Regions from separate parts of the Homo sapiens genome. Here region 2 is linked to region 1. The links come from fine-mapping of genetic effects on gene expression. A gene starts in region 1. The other region holds a variant in brackets. All regions are shown on one strand. Distances are from middle to middle.

Region 1 (4,395 bases):
AGCCCTGGCCCAGGCTCCTCAGGGTCACCAGGAGTTGAGAACCTTGGGATAGTGTTTTGGAGCAGGGGATTCCCAGGGCTGAGCTTGTCTGTGAGGATCCCAGAAGGCCCTTCAGGCCAGACCCTGACTGAGTCCTACTGGGTCTTTCTTAGGGACATGTTCACCAGGAGGGTCCCGGGGGGCTAGATTGAGACTGGTCTCCCCTCGATAAGTTACCCACATCAGATTGTCCTTCCTCTGAAGCAAATGTCTGCAGGATCAGGACTCCAGAGTAAGACATTCGGTATTTTGATGTCTGTCCCATAGTGTGTCCTGCACTAGATGCTCAAACCTTAACATGGGGTATAATGCAGAGGAGGACACAGGCACAGCCCAGGCCTGACAATCCCATGTGTGGGAAGTAGAACTAACCCCCCAACACCCAGAGGTCATGGGGAAATACTCACGGTATACATGGAACTGTCCAGTTGCTTCTTCATTCACAAGATCTGACTTTATGACTTGTAGGGTGTAGAATCCTGTGTCATTCTGGGTGACGTTCTGGATCAGCAGGGATGCATTGGGGTATATTGTCTCTCGACCGCTGTTTGCGGGCCCTGGGGTAGCTTGTTGAGTTCCTATTGCATATCCTACAATTTGACGGTTGCCATCCACTCTTTCCCCTTTGTACCAGCTGTAGCCAAAAAGTTGCTGGGGCAGATTGTGGACAAGGAGAAGAACCTCCTTCCCCTCTGCAACATTGAATGGCATGGATTCAGTAGTGAGCTGGGCAGTGGTGGGCGGGTTCCAGAAGGTTAGAAGTGAGGCTAGGAGAGAGGAGAGAGCATCAGTCAATATTGGGACCTATGCATTAGGGTAGAAAAATGGGGCCTTGGGTCCTGAGCAGGTGTCTTCACCCCTCCACCTTGGAGTGTGTGTGTGTGTGTGTGTGTGTGTGTGTGTGTGTGTGTGTGTCCTACTGGGTCAAGGTCAGCAGTGTGACTCCCATTCCCTTAGTGCCTCTGACCTTGTCATTTCTCTGGAATGCCCTTCCCCAGGGATCCGCATGGCTCCCTCCCCACTGCCCTCAGATCTTGATCACATCAGGGTGCTCTTGGGAGATCCTTTCCCTGACACCTCCCCTAGAGACCCTGGGTATTCCCTTTCTGACCTTTTTCTGCTCTGTTCCCTCCAGGGCTCTTGTCAACACCTGACCTCACATTCTAGATCTCTTTGCTTGTCTGTCTTCCCCACCCATGAGAGCGTGAGCTCCGTGAGGGCAGGGATTTGTGTGATGTTGGTTGCACCCCAGTGCCTGGGATAGGCTGCAGACTCCTGTGGATGAGTTAGTGAGCATTCCCAGGGCTCTTCATGTCCTGGGGTTTATTTGCCAATATCTGAGGTTGGTGGCTCAGGGCTCTGTTTAATGCCCCTTTTAAAATGTTTTCCTTAATTGTCACGCTGACTTAAATTGTGATTATTGTCAGCAGTTTTTGAAATTTATTGCTCATTGATGATTCAGTTGGAAAAGGTAAAAAATGGGAGATTGTTTATTCACTAACAGTTTCAGATCACTGAGACTTTCCTTTTATGATCTCTATCCCTTTCATGTCCTCTCTCCTATTTGGCTCCAAGAGAAGCCCTCTGTCCCCTCTTAGAGCTCCATCCTCCCCAGAGGACCCTAGCCATTCTCTGTGCGCCCTCTTTCCGCCCCTTCCCAGGGTGTCCTCCCCTCACCTGTGAGCAGAAGCCCCTGCCAGGGTACACGCACTCTGTGAAGTGGGGCTGAGAGGTGCCCCATGGTGTCTCCTGCTGGCCCTGTCTTCACCTGTGGAGGAGAGCTTGGGCTCCAGGAACGCTTCGAGCACGGCTGCTCTGTCACCTCTGCTGTTTTCCACTCTCTGTGCTGAGCCTCCTCCCTGGGGCCCAGAGCTTTGTCTGATCATGTGTGCTGGGGCGGGGTTTGTCCAGGAAGCTCTGTTTCCTCTCCTCTCATTCCTACCTTTGTCCTTACTTTCTCTTTCCTTTCTGTCTACATTTTGGTTTCCCAGACCACACTTTGAGAATCAAGGCTGATGAGACCTCTGTCCCCATCAGGGGAGGAGGATCCCCCCTCTCCAGCACTGACCTCTATTGTGTCCTGGCTATGGGTCTGTCAGCAGCACACAGAGAACCCTGGCATATCCAAATGTGGTAATTATTTTCTTTGCAACACAGTGAGCTGCCAGGTCTCCCCATGCTCTTCAGTGTGCTGGGAAGGTAGGAAGACACCCAGCAGGAAGGTGACAGAGGTGGCTCTGGGGGATGGAAAGGGGCTCACTGGGGGATGACTGGGGAGGGACCAGCCCTCTGTCTCTAGTGTCACCAGCCTGGCCTCTAACCCAGGGACAGAGACCCAAGTCCAGGGGTCTCAGGTGGAGCTGCAGCTCCCGGATATGGAGGGGGAGGTGTCCTGTGTGTCCTGGGAAGAGAGGACTGTGATAGAGGGAGGTGGGTGGCTCTGGGCTCTACTGTCCTTGGGGAAGACTTCAGGGGGACCCTCCCTCCCTTGAGCTGAGGCTCAAGGCCTGTCCATGTTCTCCCTGACCATCCTGGGTGGTCTCTGTCCTCTGCGAGGCTGATTGTCCTGTGGTCACCGCACCTTCCCCACAGGTGGTGCCAGGAGGGAATGGGGAGCTGCACAGGGACCCCTCACAGAACAGGGTCCTCAGAGGACCCAGGAAGGGACAGAGCAGGTACATGGGAGGGCCTGGAAGGGTGTTTTGGAGCAAGGGATGGAAAGTGGGCTCTACCTTCACCTCCTTAGCAAAGCCAGGTTCATGACCAGGGGAATGTTTCCTGAGTGTTGTCTGTGTGCAATGTCTCCCCCTGGAGGGCAAGACAAGGCCTGCAGCCTTGTCAAGGGCTGCCCCAGGGATGCTGACCAGGGTCTACATGATGTGAGCTGGCCCTGACCCCTGGGCAGATGTGGGCTCTGACCTCCAGGCTTCAAGGTCAAGTCACCCCAGGTCCTGTTCACTGCGGGTCCCCAGGCTGCCCAGCTCCATGCGGTGCAGGATGAGCCCAGGGAGAGGACGTGAGTTGTCCAGAGGACTTCTGTCAAGATTGGAGAGAACTGTCCACCAGGGGGATGGGCTGCCTTAGAAGGAGCCATCTGTCCCAGAGGTTTGAAAAACAAAAGCAAAAACAAAACAAAACAAAAAAACAAAGGCCCAGTGAGGTGCCTTTGGGGGCTTGAGAATGAAATCCTGTCACATGTGGCAACATGAATGGAAGTGGGCTAGGAACAGAAAGTTAAACATCACATGTTCTTACTAATATGTGGAACCTAAAAACAGTTGATCTCATGGAAGGAAAAAGTAGAACAGAGCATACCAGAGGCTGGGAAGGGTAGAGGAAGGGAGGGACAGGGAAAGATGTGTTAAAGGATATAAAATTACAGCTAGATAGGCCGGGCACAGTGGCTCATGCCTGTAATCCCAGCACTTTGGGAGGCCGAGGCGGGTGGATCATGAGGTCAAGAGATTGAGACCATCCTGGCCAACATGGTGAAACCCCGTCTCTACTAAAAATACAAAAAATTAGCCAGGTGTGGTCGTGGGCACCTGTAGTCCCAGCTACTTGGAGGCTGAGGCAGGAGAATCACTGGAACCCGGGAGGCAGAGGTTGCAATGAGCCAAGATTGCACCATTGCACTTCAGTGTGGCGACAGAGTGAGACTCCATCTTAAAAAAAAATAAGGCCAGGCGCGGTGGCTCACGCCTGTAATCCCAGCACTTTGGGAGGCCGAGGCGGGTGGATCATGAGGTCAGGAGATCGAGACCATCCTGGCTAACAAGGTGAAACCCCGTCTCTACTAAAAATACAAAAAATTAGCCGGGCGCGGTGGCGGGCGCCTGTAGTCCCAGCTACTCGGGAGGCTGAGGCAGGAGAATGGCGTGAACCTGGGAAGCGGAGCTTGCAGTGAGCCGAGATTGCGCCACTGCAGTCCGCAGTCCGGCCTGGGCGACAGAGCGAGACTCCGTCTCAAAAAAAAAAAAAAAAAAAAATACAGCTAGATAGGAGGAGGAATAAGTTCTAATGTTCTATACCACTGTAGGATGACTACAGATTTTTTTTTTTTTTTGAGACAGGGTCTGGAGTACACTGCAGCCTCAACCTCCTGCGATCAGGTGATCTTCCTGCCTCAGTCTCCCATGTAGCTGGAACTATAGGTGCACGCCACCACGCCTGGCTAATTTTTTGTTTTATTTTTCAATTTTTTTTTAAATAAAGAGACAGGGTATCACTATGTTGCCCAGGCTGGCCTTGAACTCCTAAGCTCAAGTGATCCTCCGCCTAGGCCTCCCAAAGTTCTAGGATTACAGCCACCATGCCCAGCCAAGTGTTTTGATTTTTTTGTAGAGACTGATCTTA
Region 2 (4,395 bases), 200 kb after region 1:
ATTAAGTGAATTAACTAGATTTTAGAAAGGTAATGAGGCAGTCATATGCAAGGAAGATTTCAAAGTCTGGAGACAAGAAGTCAAGCAATACTTTGAGAAGTGGTTGAGCTTTATGGGAATGGAGAGAATTACACTATTGAGAGATGTTAAAAATAATGAAGAGGGTTTCACCATGTGAAATTGTGTTTTTCATTTGAATCTGAGAAACAAATGAGCAGAGAGAGAGGCTGGAGATAATTATGTCTAAAAGACAGTGGGGTACAGGGAGCATAAAGGCCAGGGAGAAAGGGAACTGCAGGAATTAGTGCTGAGAAGCAGGAGTTAGTGGAGGAAGGAGGAGATCCAGTCCCAGATACAGGCAAATAAGTCTTTTCCCTCTCCCAAGCATGGCAGTTAGCCCTGCAGGAACCAGGATAAGAGGAAAGGTCATCATACCTGCCAGTCTTCCTGAAATACAGAAATGACATCACGGCTGCTATAATGGATTAAGGCCAGGAAGATGTCCTGTTCCTGAAGGAGCTGTCATGGAAAAAAAAGAAAAGAAGGAATGAAGATGATGTTATTTTACATGGGGGAGCCTCAGGAACAAGCATGTAACATGAGGTACTCTATAATTGTTTCTTCAAGGACTACGTTATTTCTGTTGGAAAATTGATAGGAGATGATTATATTCTTGCAGTTTTTTTTTCCCTCTCACCCTGTTTCTCAGTTGGTGATCAGTCCTCTGTCAATTCTCTACTGTGCTCAGATATTTGGAAGGCTTTCAGATGTGAGAAAGGCTGATTGCTATTTTCTATGTCATTAGAACTTGCCACCTTTGCACCTTTTCATGGTTGCATCTTTTTCTCAGTGTCTCTGTTGTGGCAGTCATGAATGAGACCCTGCCAGGTCTCCATGGCAGAGACTTGATTGACAGAAGGCCCAGGTCAGTGCATTTCAAATTCACCACCTCCTTTGCACAGAAAGCTTCTTTCCTACAGGCTCCCAGCAAGGGCGTGAAAGCAAGTCTAGTTCTCTGAGGCTCTCTTTAACTCTAATGGGTGACTGGTTGGAGGATTCCCCATCAGCCTTGCAAAAACTCTTATAATTGAATTGGTACCTAAAACTTCTTTCTCTTTCTTTTTCACAGGAATCAGCTCTGCATAGTGGTCTGTGGGTTCTCCCGTACTACCTTCATGCCTGCCCCACATTCCCTCACAGGTGTCTTCCCTGATAAGTTATCTTGTATGTCTAATCCCATCTTGGATGCATCTCAGTCAGTAAAAACTAACATACCAGGCTTGATTCTTTGCACTTAGCTTTTTTTCTTTCTCTCCCACAAGTAGTCAGTAACCATGTCCTAGTGTTTTATGTGTTACCTCTTTTTCCATATATATATATATGGAAAAAGGAAGGTACTGTTGAGGGGCACTTCCTATGTGCCAGGCCCTGTGCTAAATACTTTCCCTGTATCTCATTTAATCCACACAATAACCCTGTGAGGTAGACATTATTTCCATTTTGCCGATGAAAAGACAGAAGCTTAGAGTGGTGTAAAACTTTCCTGGTGTCATATGGCTAGTGACAGGTGGATCTGAGATTTGATTCTAGGACTATTTGACCTCTAGGCTAATGATGATGGTAGTCATATAGCAGCTGACATTGGTTCCACTGTGTGTGGCATCTCGTTTTATTGACTGCATTAAACCTTTAAAAGAAAGGTATGAAGAAAGCACTCTTATTGCAGTTTTCAGGTGAGGTATCAGAGGTTCAGAGAAATTGAGTCTTGTGCAAGAAATTTATAACTGTAAACTCTTACATTAAAAAAGAAGAAAGATCTCAGGTCAACAACCTACTTTAATACTTCAGGATATGAAAGAAGAACAAACTAAACCCAAGCACAGTGAATGAGGGAAAAATAAGGATTAGAGTGGATATAAATAAAATGGAGAATGGAAAAAGAATAGAGGAAATTAATGAAACCAAAAGTTGATTCTTCAAAATAAAATCAACAAAATTGACAACCATTAACTAGATTGACTAAGAAAAAAAGAGAAAAGTTTAAAATTCCTAAAATCAGAAATGAAAATGGACTCTGAGCATGGTGGGTCATGTTTTAATCCTAGCACTTTGGGAAGTCACAGCAGAAGGATTTCTTGAGACCAGGTGTTTGGACCAGCATAGGTAACCTGGGGAGACCCTGTCTCTACAAAAAAATAAAAAAGCCAATTAGCTGC[G/A]CATGGTGACATGCACCTGTAGTCCTAGCATCTTGGGAGGCTGAAGAAGGAGAATTACTTGAGCCCAGGAGGTTGAGGCTGCAGTGAGCCATAATCACACCACTGTATTCCATCCTGGGCTGGCCTACAGAGTGAGAGCCTGTCTCTCTCTCTTCAACAACAACAACCAAAAAAAAAAAAAAAAAAAGAAAAAAGAAAAATGAAGCGATTACTACCAATTCTAATAAACTAATGATTATGAAAGTACTATAAATAATTGTATGCCAATAAATTGGATAACCTAGATGAAGTAGACAAACCCCTAGAAACACACAAAAATATGAATGGAACTATAATCAGTAATAAGATTGAATCAATAAAACATTTGATGAAATTCAATATTTTTTCATAATAAAAACTTTCTAAGAAGGGAAGGAAACCACCTCAACGTAAAGGCAATATGTGAAAAACCCAATGCTAACATCATACTCAACGGAGAAAGACTGAAAGCTTTCCCTGTATGAGCAGGAACAAGACAAGGGTGCCTGCTTTTGACACTTTTATTCAACATAGTATTGAAAGGTCTAGTCAGAAAAATTAGGCAAGAATTTAAAAAAAGACGTTAAAATTGGAAGGAAGGAGTAAAATTATTTCTGTTTACAGATAACTTGAACTTATATGTAGAAAATCCTAAAGATGGAACAAACCTATTAGAATTAATAAATAAATTCAGTAATGTTGCACAATACAAAATCAACATTCAAACATCAGTTGTATTTCAATACACTAACCATGAACAATCTGAAGGGAAATTAAGAAAAAAAATTTCAATTTATATTAACATCAAAAAGAATAAAATATTTAGGAATGAGTTTAACCAAAGAGGTAAAATGATTATACCTGAAATCTACAAAATATGGCTGAAAGAAATGAAAGATGACATCAATAAATTGAAAGACATTTTGTTTTCATGAATTGGAAGACTCAATATTGTTAGGAGGACAGTGCTACCTGACGTGAGCTGCAGATTCAATAAAATTCCTATCAGAATCTCAGTGACATTTTTGCAGTAAAAAAAAATCTGTCCTAAAATTTATATTGCATCTCATGACTCTAAATAGACACACAGCTTTGAAGAGGAAGAATGAAGCTGGAGGACTCACACTTCCTGATTTCAGCATTTACTACAAAGCCCCAGTAATCAATACACTGTGGTACTGGCATAAAGGAGGACATAGAAATTAATGAAATATAATAACCCAGAAAGAAATGCTTGCATATATGGCCAAATGATTTTCATCGAGTGTGCCAAGATCGTTCAATGGGGAAGGGACCGTTTTCTCACCAAATGATATTGGGAAAGGTGGATATCCAAGGGCAAGAACAGTGGAACCTTTACCTAACACCATGTACAAAAAGTAACCCACAATAGATCAAAGATCTAAATGTAAGGGCAAAAACTATTCAACTCTTAGAAGAAAAGCTTCATGATACTGGATTTCACAATGATTTCCTGGTTGTAACAACAAAAGCATAGGCAACAAATAAAATGGATAAATCGGACTTCATAAAAATCAAAACCTTTTATATATCAAAGAACACTATCAAGAAAGTAAAAAGCAACCCACGAAATGATAAAAATATTTGCAAATTATATGTGTGATAAGAAATTAATTTCCAGAATACATGAAAAGCTACAAGTCAACAACAGCAAACATCCAAAAACCCAATTAAAAAATGAACAAAGGATTAAAATGGAGTTTTCTCCAAGGAAGATATACAAATATCAAATAAGCCCATGCAAAGTTCCTCAGCATCAGGAATACTTGGAGATATGCAAATCAAAACCACATTGTTACACCACCTCACACACTTTAGGATGGTTTTGATAAACAACAACAATGACAGCAACACAAAACAACAGGTGTTTTCAAGTAGATGGAAAAATTGGAGCTCTAGTGCATTGCTGATGGGAATGGGAAATGTTATAGCCACTGTAAGAAGTGGTGTGGCTCTCTCTCAAAAAATTAAACAATAAATTACCATTTGATCCAGCAATTCCACTTCTGGACATAATCCCCATAGAATTGAAAGAAATTTGAACAAATATTTGTAAACTGATGTTCAGAGAAGCATTACTCACACTAGCCAAAAAATGGAAACAACTGAAAAGTCCATTGAAAGATAAGTGGGTAGGCAA

What was found. PIP is the estimated chance that this variant, and not a neighbour inherited with it, causes the effect.
Region 2: its variant is the best candidate, but not a certain one, in a credible set for the expression of CEACAM1 in whole blood (INTERVAL, PIP 0.63).

What each region holds. Positions count from the first base shown.
Region 1 is chr19:42,526,595-42,530,989 of GRCh38, forward strand. CEACAM1 (CEA cell adhesion molecule 1) reads right to left here and starts at 1,887. Exons shown (of 9, transcript NM_001712.5): 1 at 1,717-1,887; 2 at 447-806. The coding sequence starts at 1,780. All of the region lies in intron 2 of LIPE-AS1 (LIPE antisense RNA 1), which reads left to right. RefSeq lists enhancers at 1,895-1,964, 2,187-3,049.
Region 2 is chr19:42,723,507-42,727,901 of GRCh38, forward strand. It overlaps PSG3 (pregnancy specific beta-1-glycoprotein 3), which reads right to left. Exons shown (of 7, transcript NM_021016.4): 6 at 436-519. The coding sequence ends at 476. Among named protein-coding and RNA genes, the nearest start is that of PSG3, 15 kb to the right of the region's middle. The variant G/A (reference allele first, on the strand shown) is at 2,217.